Regions from separate parts of the Homo sapiens genome. Here regions 1 and 2 are each linked to region 3. The links come from fine-mapping of genetic effects on gene expression. A gene starts in region 3. Each other region holds a variant in brackets. All regions are shown on one strand. Distances are from middle to middle. Region 1 overlaps GLIPR1L2 (GLIPR1 like 2). Region 2 has its middle 16 kb from the start of GLIPR1. Region 3 holds the start of CAPS2 (calcyphosine 2).

The links. PIP is the estimated chance that this variant, and not a neighbour inherited with it, causes the effect. A credible set is the group of variants that fine-mapping cannot tell apart.
Region 1: its variant is the best candidate, but not a certain one, in a credible set for the expression of CAPS2 in whole blood (INTERVAL, PIP 0.74).
Region 2: its variant is the best candidate, but not a certain one, in a credible set for the expression of CAPS2 in ileum (GTEx, PIP 0.79).

The regions. Positions count from the first base shown.
Region 1 is chr12:75,415,847-75,418,619 of GRCh38, reverse strand. The region is part of intron 3 of GLIPR1L2 (GLIPR1 like 2); the gene reads right to left. Among named protein-coding and RNA genes, the nearest start is that of GLIPR1L2, 26 kb to the right of the region's middle. The variant T/C (reference allele first, on the strand shown) is at 1,389.
Region 2 is chr12:75,463,854-75,466,626 of GRCh38, reverse strand. No RefSeq gene overlaps it. Among named protein-coding and RNA genes, the nearest start is that of GLIPR1, 16 kb to the left of the region's middle. The variant G/A (reference allele first, on the strand shown) is at 1,712.
Region 3 is chr12:75,328,708-75,331,480 of GRCh38, reverse strand. It overlaps CAPS2 (calcyphosine 2), which reads left to right and starts at 1,157. Exons shown (of 17, transcript NM_001355024.4): 1 at 1,157-1,614. RefSeq lists an enhancer at 1,201-1,250.

The DNA of each region.
Region 1 (2,773 bases), 87 kb before region 3:
AGGCATCACGTTACCCGACTTCAAACTATTACTACAATGGGACAGAACAGAGGCCTCAGGAATAACGCCACATATCTACAACCATCTGATATTTGAAAAACCTGACATAAACAAGCAATGGGGAAAGGATTCTCTATTTAATAAATAATTTTTTCTATACTCAGATTCATACATGTGTTCCTTTATAGTTTCTGGACTTTAATGTTCTGATAGGTAAGTCCTTATACCTTCCAAATTGTAAGTAAATTCACTAATATAGCTTTCATGACTTCACTTTTTAATGTTTAAGTCTTTTATGTATTAGAAATTTAATCCTCTAAGATGAGTGAAAAACTCAGTTTTACTTTTATCCAGCCAGTAGGCTCTCCTAATTCCATTACTTAAATACTTTAACCAGTGATTTTAAACGCCAACTTTATCACAATCATTACATATGGATTTGGATCTACTTATTGACCCTCATCTATATAACACAATAAGCGGAAATATTTATAAATTACATTACATAAAATGTAATGTGCAATGTCTTTGGCACACTTACAACAAAATTATATTTAACTAAATGAAAGGTCTTGTAGTCAACTGCAGATCCAACATGCCTAAAAATAAAAGTTATTTTCCCTCCACTCTATATATTTTCCTAGGTCAGTTAATAACATTACCTATCAATGAAGCATAAATTCTTATGGTCATCCTTGTGTCCTTTCTAATATTTAAGTTTTAGAGTAATCGAATTAATATTGTTTTATTTTACTTTTTAAAATTGTACTTAAAATGTGTGAGTTTTTATCTTTGAAAATGAAAAATAAGGACTAGTAAATAATTATATGTAATATAGTTTCAGTTTTTTTCTGATACATTATAAAGTATTCTAATCTTTATACAGATATCTTTGTAGATTAGGAACATTTTCTTTTCTTTATTATTTCTCTTTCCTTGGCTCTTCTCTATTCTTTAGAAACACCAATTTGTAGATTTATATGCCATACATATTTCCTTTATTTTTTCATATATATTTTGACCTCTATTCTTCACCTTTGTGTTTCTGAGAAAAATTTTCAAGGTTGCTTTGACTTGTTATTTTCAGTATGCATGGCCAAGTCTGTTTTATTCTTCCATTCTGCATTAATTTTCTGTAACTATATTAACAAATTACCACAAATTCGGTGGCTAAAACAACATTAATTTATTCTCTCACTGTTCTGGAGGCCCAAAGTCCAAAATCAAGGTGTTGGCAGGGCTGTGTTCCCTTCAAAGGCTCTTAAGAATCTGTTCCTTGATTTTTCCAGCTTCTGGTGGCCTTAGCTCCTTGGCTTGTGGATGCATCACTGTAGCTGCTTCTGCTGTGGTCACACTGCCTCCTCTTCTGTGTGTCTTATGCTGAATCC[T/C]CCTCTCCATCTCTTACAAGTATACATGTGATTGCATTTAGCCCTCACCCAAATAATCTAGAATAAGCTCCTCTCAAGATCCTTATATTAACCACATCTTTGCCATATTAGGTAATATTCACACTTTTGCCATTTAAGTAATATTGACAGGTTCTGGAAATTAGGACCTAAACATAACGTTGGTAGGGGGGGCACCATTCATCCCACTATACCTTTTAATTTTCAATTTTGTTATTTTACATTCATTTCTACCCAGTATTTTATAATATTGTAATGGATTGATTTTTCTACCAACTATCCTTAAGAGAGATAATGTGATTGCCTATTTTAGGTACATAATCAAATAAGAATTGGACTGAGTTGACTGATAACTGTTCCAATCTAGATCCTTCAAGGTAGACTTGCCAATATTTGTATCAAAGGAAAAATGGTTAACAAATTTCAAGACAAAGAAGCTTGTGCAATAAGAGAGTAGCAAGAAAAAAAGGGTAATTTCAACAACTGGTAGCTTCATCTTATCACTGTAGTCATCTGAGACCCCTGTACTCACTATTCTTATTAAGGTCACCAAATACCTTCATCTCATCTAATGGAACTGTCAGTTCTCCTTCCTCAATTTCTCATTCTCTCAGCAGCGTCTCATAGAGTTAACCAGTTTGGGCTTCTTAGCTCATGTTCTTCACTTGACTTCCAAGTACCTTACCAGCAGGTTTTTGGTTTCCCTCATACCTCATTAACCTCTCTTCATTCTCCTTTACTAGCTCTTTTGCCTTAGTTTAAAATAGCGTAGTGCCCCAGGACTTAGTTCTTAAATTGTCTCCATATTCACTCTCCCACATGCTGATCTAATTCACTGTGACTTCCACTTCAGGGCCTTTATACCAGAAGCTTCGTCTACTTAGAAAACAACCACATACTTTCATATGGCTATCTGCTTCTCATGATTCATTCACATTTCCTACATTTATTTTTCTATCTAATATACCCAAATAGAAAACATATCTTTTGATCTTCTCTAAGTTAATGAAATCACCATCCACCCAGTTTTTTAGACTAAACACATAGGCATAGTGTTGCTTGATTATTTTATTCAATTTATCCCTAAACTCAAGCCAATCGGCTTGTATTATTAGCTCCACCTTCATAATATACCCAGAAACTGACCTTTCCTCACCATTTCCATTCTATGGTAGGCAGAATTCTAAGATGAATCACAAGATCCTCCACTCCTCAGGTACATGCCATGCATAATTCTCAGGAGAGTGAATATGATGAATTTTACTTCCATAATTATATTATAAGGCACCACTGACCTTAAAATATTGACATTATCTAGGTTGGCCTTGACTCATCCTATGGGTGTTTTAAAAGCAGAGAGTTTTCTT
Region 2 (2,773 bases), 140 kb before region 3:
TCTAAGGAACAGACTGCCCCTTCAAGTGGGTCCCTGACCCCCGTGCCTCCTGACTGGGAGACACCTCCCAACAGGGGTTGACAGACATTTCATACAGGAGAGCTCTGGCTGGCATCAGGCTGGTACCCCACTGGGACAAAGCTTCCAGGTGAAAGAGCAGGCAGCAATCTTTGCTGTTCTGCAGCCTCCACTGGTGATACCCACACGGATAGGGTCTGGAGTGGACCTCCAGCAAAGTGCAGCAGACATGAAGAAGAGGGGCCTGACTGTTAGAAGAAAAGCTAACAAACAGAAAGCAATAACATCAATATCAATAAAAAAGACCCCCACACAGAAACCCCAACCAAAGATCATCATCCTCAAAGATCAAAGGTAGATAAATCCACGAAGATGAGGAAAAACCAGTGAAAAATGCTGAAAATTCCAAAAATCAGAATGCCTCTTCTCATCCAAATGATCGCAACTCCTCTCCAGCAAGGGCACAAAACTGGATGGAGAATGAGATTGATGAATTGAAAGAAGTAGGCTTCAGAAGGTGGGTAATAACAAACTCCTCTGAGCTAAAGAAGCATGTTCTAACCCAATGCAAGGAAGCTAAGAACCTTGATAAAAAGTTACAGGAACTGCTAACTAGAATAACCAGTTTAGAGAGGAACATAAATGACCTGATGGAGCTGAAAAACACAGCATGAGAACTTCATGAAGCATACACAAGTATCAATAGTTGAATTGATCAAGCGGAAGAAAGGCTATTAGAGATTGAAGATCACCTTACTGAAATAAGGCATGAAGACAAGATTAGACAAAAAAGAATGAAAAGAAATGAACAAAGCCGCCAAGAAATATGGGACTACGTGAAAAGACCAAACCTACAATTGACTGGTGTACTGGAAAGTGACGGGGAGCATGGAAGCAAGTTGGAAAACACACTTCAGGATATTATCCAGGAGAACGTCCCCAGCCTAGCAAGACAGACCAACACTCAAATTCAGGAAATACAGAACACACGACTAAGATACTCTTCGAGAAGAGCAACCCCAACACACATAATCATCAGATTCTCCAAGTTTGAAATGAAGAGAAAAATGTTAAGGGCAGCCAGAGAGAAAGGTCAGGTCACCTACAAAGGGAAGCCCATCAGACTAACAGTGGATTTCTCTGCAGAAGCCCTACAAGCCAGAAAAGAGTGGGGCCAATATTCAACATTCTTAAAGAAAAGAATTTTCAACCCAGAATTTCATATCCAGCCAAACTAAGCTTTATAAATGAAGGAGAAATAAAATCCTTTCCAGACAGGCAAATGCTATGGGATTTTGTCACCACCAGGCCTGCCATACAAGAGCTCCTGAAGGAAGCACTAAATATGGAAAGAAAAAACCAGTACCACCCACTGCAAAAACATACCAAAATATAAAGGATCAATGACACTGTGAAGAAACTGCATCAACTAATGAGCAAAATAATCAGCTAGCATCATAATGACAGGATCAAATTCACACATAATATTAACCTTAAATGTAAATGGGCTAAATGCCTCAACTAAAAGACAAAGACTGAGAAATTGGATAACGAGTCAAGACCCATCAGTGTGCTGTATTCAGGAGACACATCTCACATGCAAAGACACACACAGGCCCAAAATAAAGGGATGGAGGAATATTTACCAAGCAAATGGAAAACAGAACAAAGCAGGGTTGCAATCCTAGTCTCT[G/A]ATAATACAGACTTTAAACCAAGAAAGATAAAAAAAAGACAAGGGATTACATAATGGAAAAGGGATCAATGCAACAAGAAGAGCTAACTATGCTAAATGTATATGCACCCAACAAGGAGCACCCAGATTCATAAAACAAGTTCTTAGAGACCTACAAAAAGATAGACTCCCACAAAATAATAGTGGGAGACTTTAACACCCCGCTGTCAATATTACACAGATCAACGAGACAGAAAATTAACAAAGATACCCAGAAGGTGAACTCAGCTCTGGATCAAGTGGACCTGATAGATATCTGCAGGACTCTCCACCCCAAAACAACAGAATATACATTCTTCTCAGTGCCACATGGCACCTACTCTGAAATTGACCACATAACTGGAAGTAAAACACCCCTCAGCAAACACAAAAGAACGGAAATCATAACAGTCTCTCAGACCACAGTGCAATCAAATTAGAACTCAGAATTAATAAACTCACTAAAAACTACACAACTACATGGAAATTGAACAACCTGCTCCTGAATGATAACTTGGTAAATAATGAAATTAAGGCAGAAATAATGAAGTTATTTGAAACCAATGAATACAAAGAGACAACATACCAGAATCTATGGGACACAGCTAAAGCAGTGTTAAGAGGGAAATTCATAGCACTAAATGTCCACATCAGAAAGCTGAAAAGATCTGAAATCAACACCCTCACATCACAATCAAAAGAACTAAAGAAGCAAGAGCAAACAAATTCAAAAGCTAGCAGAAGACAAGAAATAACTAAGATCAGAGCAGAACTGAAGGAGATAGAGACACGAAAACCCATCAAAAAGCAGTAAATCCAGGAGCTGTTTTTATGCAAATATTAACAAAATAGATAGACTGCTAGCTAGACTAATGAAGGTAAGAGAGAAGAATCAAATAGACACAATAAAAAATGACAAAGGGAATATCACCACTGATCCTACAGAAATACAAACTACCATTGGAGTGTACTATAAAGACCTCTACACAAATAAACTAGAAAATCTAGAAGAAACTGATAAATTCCTGGACACATACACCCTCC
Region 3 (2,773 bases):
GAATTTTATGGAGTGCAGCAGAAAAATACAGAGTGATTACATTATACCTCATTTCCTTCACTATTTTTATACTTTAAAAATTTATTTGTATTTTTACTCCCAAATTTGCACCAGGAAATACTGGAAATATTCACGTTTTGATACATACATTCTGAGGGGAGCTAATTTTGAAAAGTTACTGCAGATTAGAAAAACATGATTATGAAAGAACTGGATTAACTTTCATAAACTCTTACTTCTAATTTGAATATCTGACTCTTGGCTGTGTAATTTAGGAAAGTTAGTGCATATTAGAGTGGAGTGGATCCTTGGAATTATCTCAAACCAGCTTTTTCCCTTTATAGATGAGGAGTTGATGCCAAGATATTGTGTACAGAGCATACATAAAAATATTTAGGCCGGGCATGGTGGCTCATGCCTGTAAATCACAGCACTCTGGGAGTCTGAGGCAGGGTATCACCTGAGGTCAGGAGTTCGAGACCAGCCTGCCCAACATGGTGAAACCCCCTCTATATAAAGATACAAAATATTAACCGGGCGTGGTGGTGGGCGCATGTAATCCCAACTACTTGGGAGGCTGGGGCAGGAGAATCGCTTGAACCTGGGAGGCAGAGGTTGCAGTGAGTCGAGATTGTGCCATTGCACTCCAGCCTGGGCAACAAGAAGGAAACTCCGTCTCAAAAAAAAAAAAAGGCAAAGAATAAAATGCAGGTTTCTTGATTTCTAGGCCTTTGCCCTTTCCACACATCATTTTAAATTTTAATTATATATACACACACAAATACACATACATATATATGCAATTATTCATGTAATCATCTATATGTACATAGTCACACAAATTTAAAGTAATATCCATGTCTAATATCTATGTATCTCTATATAATATATTACAGTCTTTAAAAAAAATAAGTGCAAGCTCCTTGAGAGCAGATATTGTAGCATATGCTTAAATTTCTTCTCCTCAAAACGTCATTCTGGGCTCTGTGCACAGACAGGTGCCTTATGAAATATGTTAAACAGAATTCAATTAGACAAAGAATTACACAACAACCGCCGTGGATCCGGGCCGGGCTTTGGCCCTTTCCCTGCTCAGGAGAAGCGCGGGTGAGTGAGTCCGCTCCGGCTCCTCGCCGGGGTTTAGGGGCGCCGCGGAGCCGGTTCCCTGGGAGGCTGCGGCGGCTGTAGCTGAGGTTTCACCCCTTTGGGTTTTCCAGCCAGCAAGTACTTCTGAGAGCGTGGCGGGGTCTCCGGCCACAAGCTCAGTTCCGGTCAGCCAGGCAGCGGAACTGAGGAGGCAGATTGGCGGGGGCGGGAGGTGGCGTAGAACGAACAAGGGACTTGGGCCGACGACCTTTTCGTCCCTGGAGGTCAGAGTGTAATCAGAAGCCCTGCGCTGCGGCGCCTGTTGCCGGGCAACCTGCAGACGCGGGCCTGGACTGTCTAGACTGTCCTGTCTAAAGCTTTCTGAATGCGGTTTTTGGAGGAATCGCGCTAGTTTATACCTTTTCCAACTCTTCTAACTCTGGACCTCTTCTTACCGAGCTTGTTAGGTGAAATCAGGCTGACTGTCTCTTGTGCCCCTCGCCTGTCCTGTCCAGGAATCCCAGTTAGGTAGGGGATGGGGAATTCCTTCTGCTACACTGCAGGTGCTCTGAATTATAATATAATTTGGGAGCAGGGGGAGTGATGGGGTGAAAGGAGATATTACCCTGTTTTGCTTGAAATTAGGAATGACCTAAGTTTCAATTCAGATATCTGGGTCTGTAGTCGTCTGGGATCAACATAGACTTGGTCCCTACCTTCATGTAGCTTAAATACTAAATTGTATTTACATCTCTTTCTTTTTTTCTTATTTATGGGCTGAATTAAATCAGTTTATTTTTTGCTTTTCATTTTTTTCTGATTTGATATAAGTAACATAATAGCCAGTAATATTACTACCGAGAGAAGTGATAATAATTGGAAGTGGAAATAGTCATCCTTAAAAAAAAATGAGGGAAATGGGAAGTGTGTTCAGTTATTTTTGGTAGCACTAAAGACATTAGCCAACAGTATTTATTATATGCTAGCAATATCATCTCATGACATGCAGCCATTTAAGTGGGGACAGAAGCCATTTAGAAGTGCTTTCCCTTCCTTTTGCTACTCCCTATCTCCAACATAGCCCAGCTGGATATTCAGTGCTTAATGACAAAGACAACCCTTGGCATAGGTTTCAAAGATTCACTCACAGCCAGTTGTTTGCTGATTCTTGTGCCACCAAGTTTAGGTTTCTAATTTTTTAGTCCCTACAGCTCATTCCCCTCGAATTCTTCTATTACCTTTACCAGTGAGGATGTAGTACTGAAAAGAGATCTGAAACCCACGTGTGAATTCGGGTCTGCAATAACTGGCAAACATTTAGCGAAGTACAGTTCACTTTTCTGGATCTCAGCTGGCTCGGTTTGAAGATCAGAAGGTTGAGCTGTTTTTGTCTTTGAAGCCCTGTCAAAATCTTAAAATTATCTACATAGGGTGTCAGTTGCCTGACTGCTCTAATTCCATAGATCCGAAAGTGTTCCATGTATGACGGCATTGCCCTTTGAATACTCTTACTATATCTAAGTTAACCACTTTTGTGTTTTGTCATTCCGAATTGACTGACTTCACTTATTTAACAAACATTTGTTAAGTTCCTACTACATTGTGGGCTTTCTAAATCCTGAGACATAGGGTGAGCAAATATGAGGCTTACAGTCTAGCATTAAAGACTAATAGCTATAATGCAATG